3 separate regions of the Homo sapiens genome follow, and all the other regions are linked to region 2. The links come from fine-mapping of genetic effects on gene expression. A gene starts in region 2. Each other region holds a variant in brackets. All regions are shown on one strand. Distances are between the middles of the regions. Region 1 has its middle 4.9 kb from the start of TIMM29. Region 2 holds the start of CARM1 (coactivator associated arginine methyltransferase 1). Region 3 has its middle 9.1 kb from the start of SMARCA4.

What was found.
Region 1: its variant is fine-mapped to the expression of CARM1 in whole blood (INTERVAL, PIP 0.94).
Region 3: its variant is fine-mapped to the expression of CARM1 in whole blood (INTERVAL, PIP above 0.99).

Annotation. Positions count from the first base shown.
Region 1 is chr19:10,931,580-10,935,762 of GRCh38, reverse strand. No RefSeq gene overlaps it. Among named protein-coding and RNA genes, the nearest start is that of TIMM29, 4.9 kb to the right of the region's middle. The variant G/A (reference allele first, on the strand shown) is at 1,868.
Region 2 is chr19:10,869,866-10,874,067 of GRCh38, reverse strand. It overlaps CARM1 (coactivator associated arginine methyltransferase 1), which reads right to left and starts at 2,515. Exons shown (of 16, transcript NM_199141.2): 1 at 2,146-2,515. The coding sequence starts at 2,365. RefSeq lists enhancers at 306-425, 1,066-1,245 and silencers at 1,986-2,195, 2,286-2,335, 2,466-3,255.
Region 3 is chr19:10,949,876-10,954,077 of GRCh38, reverse strand. No RefSeq gene overlaps it. Among named protein-coding and RNA genes, the nearest start is that of SMARCA4, 9.1 kb to the left of the region's middle. The variant C/T (reference allele first, on the strand shown) is at 1,708.

The sequences.
Region 1 (4,183 bases), 62 kb before region 2:
GGATCTGAGAAAGAAGCGTGCCTTGGCTCTATCCTATCAGACATTGGGCCCTCCCTACATGGTGGCCCTGCACCACTAGGCAGGGTGCATCAGCCCCTCCACAACCACTTAGGAAGGTCACAGCATGGATTCGGAGCCATAATCTTCCCTGCACAGCCGCACCACAGACTGTGAATGCCTACTCTGTACCAAGTGCTTTAGTGGGCTTTTAAATTTTTCTGACAAGCCCACACTTAGAGATAAGGAGCCCAAAGCATGGAGAAGTGACTTCACTCACAAAGCAAGGAAGTGTAAAAGCTGAGTTCCAAATCCTGGCTTTAAAGCCCACTTATGCCTCCTGTCCTCTGCCTTACACCAGAGCATGGGCTGAAGTACAGTGAGACCTCTGGGAAAAGCTGACCCTCTGCCCAAAGCCAAGACACAAAGCCTTCAGGCTGCCCAAGCTCCACAATTCCTACCAACAGCGCCGACCACTGCCCTCAGCTTCAAGCTCCCAGCAGCTTCAGATGATCTTCCTGGAACACACCCTGGCGAGAAGTCAAAAGTGGCATTTAATAACTGACTCAAGCAATGATGGTGTGGACCCTTTCCAATACTTCTGATCAATGAGAAACAAGTGTCTTTGATGACACCTTAAAACCCTTCCCTGAAGTTGGCTAATGTCTAACAGAGGGCAGATTTGGGGACAGAGATTTTTGGCAGGTAATGGTGTAGAGATAGCATTTAGTTAGTATCATCTCGACGTCTTTTGTTTCCTTTCATTTTTGGGGGTTAGAGGGGAGATAGTGTCTCACTCTGTGGCCCAGGATGGAGTGCAGCGGCATGACCAAGCTCATTGCAGCCTCAAACTCCTGGGCTCAAGGGATCCTCTCACCTCAGCCTCACAAGTAGCTGGGACCACAGGCACACACCGTCTCACTTGGCTATTTTTTTTTTAATTATTATTTATTTATTTATTGGGACGGAGTTTTGCTCTTGTTGCCCAGGCTGGAGTGCAATGGCATGATCTCGGCTCACTCCCGAGTAGCTGGGATTACAGGTGCTTGCCACCATGCCCGGTTAATTTTTTGTATTTTTAATAGACACGGGGTTTTACCATGTTGCCCATGCTGGTCTTGAACTCCTAACTTCAGGTGACCCACTCGTCTTGGCCTCCCAAAGTGCTGGGATTACAGATGTGAGCCACCACACCTGGCCTATTTTTATTTTTAGTAGAGACGAGGTGTTGCTATGTTATCCAGGCTGTGTCTTTTGGTTTTATTGCATTTCTTTTTTATATATGTATTTCTTTTTTTCTTTTTTCTTTTTTTTTTTTTTTGAGAGGGAGTTTTGCTGTTGTTGCCCAGGCTGGAGTGCAATGGCACGATCTCAGCTCATCACAACCTCCCGGGTTCAAGCGATTCTCCTGCCTCAGCCTCCTCAGTGGCTGGAATTACAGGCATGTGCCACCACGCCTGGCTAATTTCGTACTTTTAGTAGAGATGGGGTTTCTCCATGTTGGTCAGGCTGGTCTCGAACTCCCAACCTCAGATGATCTGCCCACCTCGGCCTCCCAAAGTGTTGGGATTATAGGCGTGAGCCACTGCACCCAGCCTATATATGTCTGGTTTTTTTTTTTGTTTTTTTTTTTTCTGAGACAAGTCTCACTCTGTCGCCCAAGCTGGAGTGCAGTGGCTCGATCTCCGCTCACTGCAAGCTCCGCCTCCCGGGTTCACGCCATTCTCCTGCCTCAGCCTCCCGAGTAGCTGGGACTACAGGCACCTGCCACCACGCCCGGCTAATTTTTTAAATATTTTTAGTAGAGACGGGGTTTCACTGTGTTAGCCAGGATGGTCTCGATCTTCTGACCTTGTGATCTGCCCGCCTC[G/A]GCCTCCCAAAGTGCTGGGATTACAGGCGTGAGCCACCACGCCCGGCTTTATATATGTATTTCTATATCCAATTTTTATTTATGGCAACTGATAGCAGTATTTAACTATTTCTGACAAGAATTATTAGGATCAAAGTCCACAAGTTTGAGGATTAAGTCACAGAGCTGGGAGTTACAGTTCGAATCTTGGTCCTGCCACAGCCTTGGAAAAATAAATTTTCTGAACCTCAGCTTTTCCTCTGTAAAAGTGAGATGCTGACTTAAACCAACACCTGTTCAACCCACTGATTATGAATGCAAGGGTCAAATGCCAAAATTTGAAAGTAGCAAACACACAAAAACAAGTATCACAAACAAAGATAGTTGTTTTACCACCTGGTTTTATTAACTTGCCACAGGCCCCTGAGGTAGCATCACTCCCTTAATACTTCAGTTTTATGTTATTTATTTTTTCTCTTTTTTTTTTTTTGTGTGACGGAGTCTCACTCTGTTGCCCAGACTGGAACGCAGTGGCGTGATCTCGGCTCACTGCAACCTCCACCTCCCGGGTTCAAGTGATTCTCCTGCCTCAGTCTCCCAAGTAGCTGGGATTACAGGCGTGCGCCACCACGCCCAGCTAATTTTTGTTAGACGGGGTTTCACCATGTTGGCCAGGATGGTCTTGAGCTCTTGACCTTGTGATCCACCCACCTCAGCCTCCCAAAGTGCTGGGATCACATGCGTGAGCCACCGCATCCAGCCTTATTAATTTTTTGAGACGGGGCTTGCTCTGTCACCTAGGCTGGAGTGCAGTGATGCAGTCTTGGCTCACTGCAGCCTCAACCTCCCAAGCTCAAGCAATTCTTCCACCTCAGCCTCCTGAATAGTTGGTAGTACAGGTGTGTACCATACCCGATTAATTTTTGTGTATTTTGTAATTTTGTGTATTTTGTAGAGACAGGATTTCACCATGTCGCCTAGGCTGGTCTCGAACTCCTGGACTCAAGCGATCCTCCCACCTTGGCCTCCCAAAGTGTTGTAGTTACAGGTGTGAGCCACTGCGCCGGCCATAAATTACACTTAAAAAAAATAAAAAGTATTGAGGCCGGGTGTGGTGGCTCACGCCTATTATCCCAGCACTTTGGGAGGCCAAGGCAGGTGGATCACAAAGAGTTCAAGACCAGCCTGGCCAAGATAGTGAAATCCCGTCTCTACTAAAAATACAACAATTAGCCGGACGCAGTGCCAGATGCCTGTAATCCCAGCTACTTGGGAGGCTGAGGCAGGAGAATCGCTTGAACCCAGGTGGCAGAGGCTGCAGTGAGCCGAGATCATGCCACTGTACTCCAGCCTAGGCAATAGAGTGAAACTCTGTCTCAAAAAAAAAAAAAAAAAAAAAAAAATATTGGCCGGGCGCAGTGGCTCACACCTATAATCCCAGCACTTTGGGAGGCCGAGGTGGGAGGATCACTTGAGGTCAGGAGTTTGAGACCAGCTTGGCCAACATGGTGAAACCCCATCTCTACTAAAAATACAAAAACTAGCTGGGCATCATGGCATATGCCTGTAATCCCAGCTACCCAGGAGGCTGAGGCAAGAGAATCACTTGAACCTGGGAGGCAGAGGTTGCAGTGAGCCGAAATCGTGCCACTGCACTCCAGCCTGGGTGTCAGAGTGAGACTCTGTCTCAACAACAACAACAACAACAAAAATACAATTTACCATAACCTAGCTAAGTACCAGCTGTGTACACTAACTTACTTCTTTTCATAGAATTCTGTTTCAGGGTTACTGAAGTACAACATAACCAGAATCTATGATTCCATATAGATTTCCAGACCAGAAAATGCTTTATCCTTCCAAGCCACCTCCAGTAACTTACAATGCTCATCTGGTAAACAGGTTGTTTTACAAAAAACTTCCCTGTAACATCCCAATAGTCATGACACTGTCAATTGCCTGGTTTTGTATTTTTAATAGGGAACGAGGGCCGGGCACGGTGGCTCACGTCTGCAATCCCAGCACTTTGGGAGGCTGAGGCAGGCGGATCACCTGAGGTCAGGAGTTTGAGGCCAGCCTGACCAACATGATGAAATCTCATCTCTACTAAAAAATACAAAAATTAGCCGGGCGTGGTGGCATGCGCCTGTAATCCCAGCTACTTGGGAGGCTGAGACAGGAGAAACGCTTGAACCCAGGAGGCGGTGGTTGGGGCGAGTGCCACTGCACTCCAGCCTGGGCAACAAGAGCGAAACTCTGTCTCAAAAAAAAACTTAAAAAAATCAAAACAAAAATGTTACTTATTTATTTATTTTTTTGAGCTGGAGTCTCACTATG
Region 2 (4,202 bases):
AATACTTTCAAGAGTATCAACAAAACAAAAACAAAAACACAAATACAAACACAAAATGTTACTCCAGGAATAAGATGGTAGGAACATCTCACTATGTTGCCAATACATCTATAAGACTAAAATTGTTCTGGCCGGGCGGGGTGGCTCATGCCTGTAATCCCAGCACTTTGGGAGGCCAAGGCGGGTGGATCACGAGGTCAGGAGATCAAGACCATCCTGGCTAACATGGTGAAACCCCGTCTCTACTAAAAACACAAAAAATTAGCCGGGCATGGCGGCAGGCGCCTGTAGTCCCAGCTACTCGGGAGGCTGAGGCAGGAGAATGGCGTGAACCCAGGTGGCAGAGCTTGCAGTGAGCCGAGATTGAGCCACTGCACTTCAGCCTGGGGGACCGAGCAAGACTCTGTCTCAAAAAAAAAAAAAAAAAAAAAAAAAAAAAAAAACTAAACTAAAATTGTTCTAAAAAAAATTTTTTTTTTGAGATGGAGTCTCACTCTGTCTCCCCGGCTGGAGTGCAATGGCACGATCTCAGCTCATTGCAACCTCTGCCTCCCAGGTTCAAGTGATTCTCCTGCCTCTGCCTCCCGAGTAGCTGGGACAGGCACATGTCACCACACCCCGCTGTTTTGTATTTTTAGTAGAGACGGGGTTTCACCATGTTGGCCAGGCTGGTCTCGAACTCCTGACCTCAAGTGATCCTCCCAAAGTGCTTAGCCTCCCAAAGTGCTGAGCTACCCCGCCTGGTCCTAAAAAAATTTTTTAAAGGTTTACTTAAAAATGATAGCCAACTCTCCTGGAACTCCTTTGAGGATAAGCCCTGGGACCCTAGTTTTGGAAACGCTGCCCCGCTTTGTTCTGTTCAGGACAAAGTTGGCTACCAATGCTTGCCCAGTGAATAGGTTTTGCTTATGATCTGGGGTTCTGTTGAGCTGAGTGTCTGCCTTGAACTCTGAAACCCCCGCTGAAATACCCTCCTTCCCCTCTCATCTGGTCCAAGAAGACCCAGGCTCTGCACCAGCAAAAAGAGACGGCACCCTCGGACAGCAGACACAACTCCTTTAGTCCACGTTTTCAAAGTCGAGGTGCAGGGAAAACCCAGTGTGAACGGACTGCTCCTCGGGCTTTCCTTTAATCGGGCCGTTTCCAAAGTGGCAAAAAATTCACACAGGACCCAAGCTAGCTAGAGGCCTCCTGAGGGGTTCCCCAGGGCATCAGTGCAAGAAGCCCTGAAAGACAAAGCCAAATGACACAGAGTAGCAAAATGTGAACAAGGAATCAAAGAGAAGAGATAAGAAGGAGTAACAAGAAGAAGAATGAACTACAAAGACTGGGAGCGGGGGTGGGGGGTGCTGGCAAACGCATTTGTGATTTTCTTTTCCCCCCAGTGAAATGTCAGTTTTGAAAGCAGCTTCGGAAAATGTAACCAGCTTCTCACATCCCCCAAAAGAAGATGGGAGGAGGCTGTTAGCTCTTACTTCGAAGCCCGGCATCAGGAAGGGGCCCGTCCCGTCCACGTTTCCACGAGGAGCTCACCCTGCGGCTCCCACCGTCCCCGCATGGGCCCTCTCCCCAGATCCTGAAGTTTCCCATTCGGGGGTCCTGAACGCCACACCTCGCACAGCGGTGGAACTCGGTACTCGCGGGCGCCCCAGACCAGCAAACACTTTCCAACCGTCCTGAGCTATCCAGGGGGTCCCCAGAGGGATCCCGGGCCGCCCACGCCCCACCCTCCTCCCTGCAGAGGCGGCCACGCCCGCCCCCGAGACGCCCACCTCTCCCGCACCCCGGACCTCCCTCCCCCACGCTTAAGCCCACCACGCCTGGCGTCCTCCAAATTCCCCTTCCACTCAGAGCCCCCCACTTCCTGCTCACCCACCCCTCCCAAATCTCAGGCCCTTCACTCCCCATTTCGCGCTCCCTTGCTCACTCTGGGCACCTTGCCCCTCCGGCCACCACGCACGCCCTCTTTTCTCTGTCTGTCCCCTGGCACCGGCCCTCCACGGTCGCTCCCTGCAGGCCACCGGCTCAGTCCCGGGGACCCCACGCCAGGCCCCCGCGCTCAGGGCCCCTCCCCGCCGGCCCCCGCCCCGGGCCGGCCTCGTGAGCAGCCCCGGCCCTGCGCCTGCCCCGGGGCCCCGTACTCACGGCTGTAGAGGGCGATGCCCGCCGAGTCCGGGCCGGCGCGCACCTCGAGGCGCAGCGCCTGCTGCTCCGCGTGCCGCTGGATCTCGCCGTTCGCGTCGCCGATGGTGAGGAGGCGGGCGCCGGGGAACACCGACACGGTAGCGCAGGGCCCCGCGCCGCCCGGGACCGCCGACCCCGCGCCGCCCGCGCCCGGCCCCACCGCCGCCGCCGCCGCTGCCATCTTAGATCCGGCTCCAGGCCCCGCCGCCGCCGCCGCTGCGCCCGGGCCCAGGCCGCCGCCGCTGCCGCCGCCGCCGCCGCCGCCGCCGCCGCCGCCGCCGCCGCCGCCGCCGCTGCCGCTACCGCCGCCGCAGCCGCCGTGCAGGCCGAGGCCGAGCCGGGCAGCGCCGCCTGCCGGCCACGCGCCGCCTCGCCGCCGCCGCCGCCACCGTCGCCGCGGCCCGGCCCCGTGGCGCAGCGCCCTCTGCCGGCCGTCCTGGGCGCGGGGAGCTAGCGAGCGAACGAGAGGGCACCCCGTGGGGCGGGACCGGCTACGCCCCGCCCCGCGAGAACGGTCGCCGCTTTGTGAGGTGGCTCCACCGCCCGGGAACTGCGGGGCGGGAGGGTACGTCGGGGGCGGTGCTCGGGCGCGCGGGCACGCCCCTCGGAGGCCTGGGCCCCGCCCCCAGGCCGGCGCCTCATTAACGGCTGCTTTCGAGTGAGGCGGTGCGGGGACGGCGGGGGCGGTGCTCGGCCGCGTGGACACGCCCTGTACCCCGCCCCACACAAGCAGCCGCGCGTCGTGATGCGGCTTCCCTGCCCCGACCTGGACACGCCCCTGAGACTGGGCCCCACCCCCCCGGGCCCGCCCGGCTTTGTGAGGCAGCCCTCAGGGAGGCGTGGCCCAGCCGCGACGAGGCCCCGCCCCCGTGCCTGCCCGCGCCCTCCCACCCGGACTCGCTTTGTCAGCCGCCCCGCTCTGGGGAATGGGCGGGGGAAAGGGCGTGGCCAGCGCCCGGGCCTCGCCCCCAACCCTTCCCCCCACCGCCCCCGCACCGACGATTTCCGATGAGCCCTGGCCTCCAGGAGCAACCTGAGCCCGGTTGAAAGGACCCCTCCCCGACATTCGACCGCTCCTCCTCCCTTCCCCATCATCTCTGCCCACATTGCCTTCTTAATCCTTAATGTTTGACTGTCTCCTTTCGCACAAGATATCCTTTGACCCCCTCCTCTCTCAGCCCCTCCTCCAACGATGCTGAGTCCAGCCTGGCCCGGCGCAGGGCCCCTCTCCCGCCACACAAACCCGTCTTCTCTCTGCATCCCCCTTCATTTTGGGTGGCCCCATCTCTTTTGGGCGACCCAGTGAGCTTGGGCCACTTCCTAGCACTCCAGCTTTAACTCTTCCCTAGACCTCATTTACGCCTCATTCCTTTTTTTTTTTTTTTTTTTTCTTTGAGACGGAGTCTCGCTCTGTCTCCCAGGCTGGAGTGCAATGGCTCGATCTCAGCTCACCGCAACCTCCGCCTCCCGGGTTCAAGTGATTCTCCTGCCTCAGCCTCCCGAGTAGCTGGGACTACAGGCATGCTCTACCACGCCCAGCTAATTTTTTATTTTTAGTAGAGACGAGGTTTCACCATGTTGGTCAGGCTGGTCTTGAACTCCTGACTTCAGGTGATCCGCCCGCCTCGGCATCCCAAAGTGCTGGGCCTACAGGCATGAGCCACCGCGCCCGGCCCCTTTTGTTTTTTGAGACAGGGTCTCACTGTGTTGCCCAGGCTAGAGTGCAGTGGTGCCATCATAGCTTACTGCAGCCTCAACCTCCTGGGCTCAAGCAACCCCCTGCCTCGGCCTCCCAAAGTGCTGGGATTATAGGTGTGAGCCACTGCGAGGGGCCCTCATTCTCCTTCATGTCCCTCACCCGTAGCCCCTGTCATTCCACCTCCTAAACCCTCTAATGCAAGTACCGTTGCAGAGACCCTGGCATGGCACTGCTGCACTCCCCACACCCCCAGGAGGCTCCGCATACACCACCCTGACTGCCCTTGAGAGATGCTTCAAATTTGGTGAATTCAGACACG
Region 3 (4,202 bases), 80 kb before region 2:
TCACTGCAAGCTCTGTCTCCTGTGTTCACGCCATTCTCCTGCCTCAGCCTCCTGAGTAGCTGGGACTACAGGCACCTGCCACCACGCCTGGCTAATTTTTTGTATTTTTAGTAGAGACGGGGTTTCACCGTGTTAGCCAGGATGGTCTCAATCTCCTGACCTCGTGATCTGCCCGCCTCGGCCTCCCAAAGTGCTGGGATTACAGGCGTGAACCACGGCACCCAGGCGAGATGAATGAATCTCTAGGGAATTATGCTTTGGGCGGGAACCGGGGAGGGGAAGCCAATCTCAAAAATGTTACATACTATCTGATTAAATTTTTTTGTTTTGTTTTGTTTTGATTTGATTTGTTTTGAGATGGAGTCTCGCTGTGTCTCCCAGGCTGGAGTATAGTGGTGCAATCTTGGCTCACTGCAACCTCCACCTCCTGGGTTCAAGCAATTCTCCTGCCTCAGCCTCCCAAATAGCCGAGATTGCAGGAGCCCACCACCACGCCCGGCTAATTTTTGTATTTCTAGTAGGGATTGAGTTTTACCATGTTGGCCTGGTGGATCTCAAACTCCTGACCTCAAGTGACCCACTCGCCTCAGCCATGATCAGTATTTTGAATGTGGGCGTGAATATGCAAACCTACATAGGAAGCAAATTGTATACAATTTACTACACACGCGCGCGCGCGCGCACACACACACACACACACACACACGAGTACAAGTAAAATGGAGAAAATCCACCTAAGATTGCGCTGGGCGTGGTGGCTCATTCCTGTAATCCTAGCACTTTGGGAGGCTGAGGCGGGCAGATCACTTGAGGCCAGGAGTTTGAAACCAGCCTGGCCAACATGGGAAAACCCTGTCTCTACTAAAAACACAGAAATTAGCAAGTCTTGGCGGCGGGCACCTGTGGTCCCAGTTTTACTCGGGAGGCTGAGACAGGAGAATCTCTCCAGCCTGGGAGGCGGAGGTTGCAGTGACTGAGATTATGCCACTCCGCTCCTGCCTGGGTGACTGAGTGAAAGTCCATCAAAAAATAAATAAATATATAAACCTGGGAGTGGCATCCACAAGACAGTGGCAGAACAGGTTTTCCAACCCTGAACTGGAGCTACTGGAAGTGTCCCAAGGCAAGCCAAGCCGGGGTTTCCCAAACATCACCTGCAGATGTGCTCTCAGTCTGAGAAGAGTGAGTCTGGGCCTCAGCAGGTCTGCTTCTCTCAGAAAAAGCATTTTGCTGTTCTGGGCTTATCCAGCTATTACTTTTCCCTGGGGCTGCACACAAATTCTTCTAGTGACTTTGTAAACATTTAATTAGGTAGGTAGTTAGTTACTTTTTGAGGCAAGGTCTCACTTGGTCACACCCAGGCTGGAGTGCAGTAGCACAATCATGGTTCACTGTAGCATCAACCTCCAGAGCTCAAGCCATCCTCTCGCCTCAGCCTCCTGAGTAGCTGGGGCTACTGGTGCGCACCTCCACACCTGGTTAATTTTTTTTATTTTTTGTAGAGATGAAGTTTCACCATGTTGCCCAGGCTGGTCTTGATCTCCTGAGCTCAAGCAATCCTCTCACCTCAGCCTCCCAAAGTGCTGGGATTAAAGGTATGAGCCACCATGCTAGGCAATTTTGTAAACTTGAAATGCACTTCTCTGAAAACAGAAGACAGCAACAGCCTCTTAAAAATCGTAAGTGTAGGCCGGGTGCAGTGGCTCA[C/T]GCCTCTAGTCCCAGCACTTTGGGAGGCCAAGGCACACAGATCACAAGATCAGGAGTGTGAGACCAGCCTGGCCAATATGGTGAAACCCCGCCTCTACTAAAAAAAAAATACAAAAATTAGCCAGATGTGGTGGCACACACCTGTAGTCTAGCTATTCTGGAGGCTGAGGAAAGAGGATCGCTTGAACCTGGGAAGTAGAGGTTGCAGTGAGCCGAGGTCGTGCCATTGCACTCCAGCCTGGGCGACAAAATGGGACTCCATCTCAAAAAAAAAAAAAAAAAAATCGGCCAGGCGCGCGGTGGCTCAAGTGTGTAATCCCAGCACTTTGGGAAGCCAAGGCGGGTGGCTCACGTGAGGTCGGGAGCTTGAGACCAGCCTGACCAACATGAAGAAACCCCGTCTTTACTAAAAATAAATAAATTAGCTGGGCATGGTGGCAGATGCCTGTAATCCCAGCTACTCAGGAGGCTGAGGCAGGAGAATTGCTTGAACCCAGGAGGCAGAGGTTGCAGTGAGCCTAGATTGCGCCATTGCACTCCAGCCTAGGCAACAAGAGCTAAACTCCATCTCAATTAAAAAAGAAAAAGGCTAGCCGGGCGCAGTGGTTCACGCCTGTAATGCCAGAACTTTGGGAGGCAGAGGCGGGCGGATCACGAGGTCAGGAGATCGAGACCATCCTGGCTAACACAGTGAAACCCCGTCTCTACTAAAAATACAAAAAATTAGCCAGGCATGGTGGCGGGCGCCTGTAGTCTCAGCTACTGGGGAGGCTGAAGCAGGAGAATGGCCTGAACCCGGGAGGCGGAGCTTGCAGTGAGCCAAGATTGTGCCACTGCACTCCAGCCTGGGCGACAGAAAGAGACTCCGTCTCAAAAAAAAAAAAAGAAAAGGCTGGGCACGGTGGCTCATGCTTGTAATCCCAGCACTTTGGGAGGCCGAGGCAGATGGATCACAAGGTCAAGAGATCGAGACTATTCTGGCCAACATGCTGAAACTCCATCTCTACTAAAAATACAAAAATTAGCTGGGTGTGGTGGCTTGGGCCTGTAGTTCCAGCTATTTGGGAGGCTGAGGCAGAGGCGGAGGCTGAGCTTGCAGTGAGCCAAGATCGCGCCACTGCACTCCAGCCTGGCGACAGAGCGAGACTCCGTCTCAAAAAAAAAATCATAAGTGACAACTTTAGGAAGCCTACGGGGGCAGATGACTTGAGGCAAGGAGTTTGAGACCAGCCTGGCCAAAATGGTGAAAACCCATCTCTACTAGAAATTCAAAAATTAGCCAGATGTGGTTATAGCTACTTGGGAGGCTGAGGCATGAGAATTGCTTGAACCCAGGAGGCAGAAACTGCAGTGAGCTGAGATCGTGCCACTGCACTCCAGCCTGGGCAACAGAGCGAGACTCTGTCTCAAAAAAAAAAAAAAAAATTCAGAAGTGGCAGCCACCTCACACCATTAGGAGAGCTACTGTTAAAAATAAAATAAGGCTAGGCATGGTGGCTCATATCTGTAATCTCAGCACTTTGGGAGGCCCGGGTGGGGGGATCACTTGAGCCCAGGAGTTCAAGACCAGCCTGGGCAACAGAGGAAGACCTTTTTTCAACTAAAAATAAAAAATTGGTCTGGCCACGATGGCTCACCCCTGTAATCCCAGCACTTTGGTAGGCCGAGGTGAGCAGATCACTTGAGGCTAGGCTGGCCAACATAGTAAAACCCCATCTCTACCAAAAATACCCAAAAGAACCTGTCTCTACCAAAAATACTCCATCACTACCAAAAAAAAAAAAAATCAAAAATTAGCCAGGTGTGGTGGTACATGCCTGTAGTCCCAGCTACTCGGGAAGCTGAGGCACCAGAATCACTTGAACATGGGTGGCAGAGGTTGCAGCAAGCCAAGGTTGTGCCACTGCACTCCAGCCTGGACAATGGAGTGTGACCCTGTCTCAAAGAAAAGGGAAATTTTATGTAATGTGTATTTTACCACAATTTTTTTCTCTTTTTTTTTTTTTTTTTTTTTGGCACAGGTTCTCACTCTGTTGCCCAAGCTGGAATGTCATGGTGTGATCATGGCTCACTGAAGCCTCAACCTCCCAGGGGTCAGGTGATCCTCCTACTTCAGCCTCCCACTACAGGTTGGTGCCAGCACACCCAGCTAATTTTTGAACTTTTTTTTTTAGAGATACATCTTGCTATGTTGCCCAGGCTGGTCTCAAACACCTGGGCTCAAGTGGTCCTCCTGCCTTGGCCTCCCAAAGTGCTAGGATTACAGACATGAGCCACCGTACCCAGCCTTTTTTTTTTTTTTTTTCCTGAGATGGAGTCTCACTCTGTCGCCCAGGATGGAGTGCAGTGGCGCGATCTTGGCTCACTGCAAGCTCTGCCTCCCGGGTTCACGCCATTCTCCTGCCTCAGCCTCCTGAGTACCTGGGACTAGAGGCGCCCACCACACACCCGGGTAATCTTTTTGTATTTTTTTTTTTTAGTAGAGACGGGGTTTC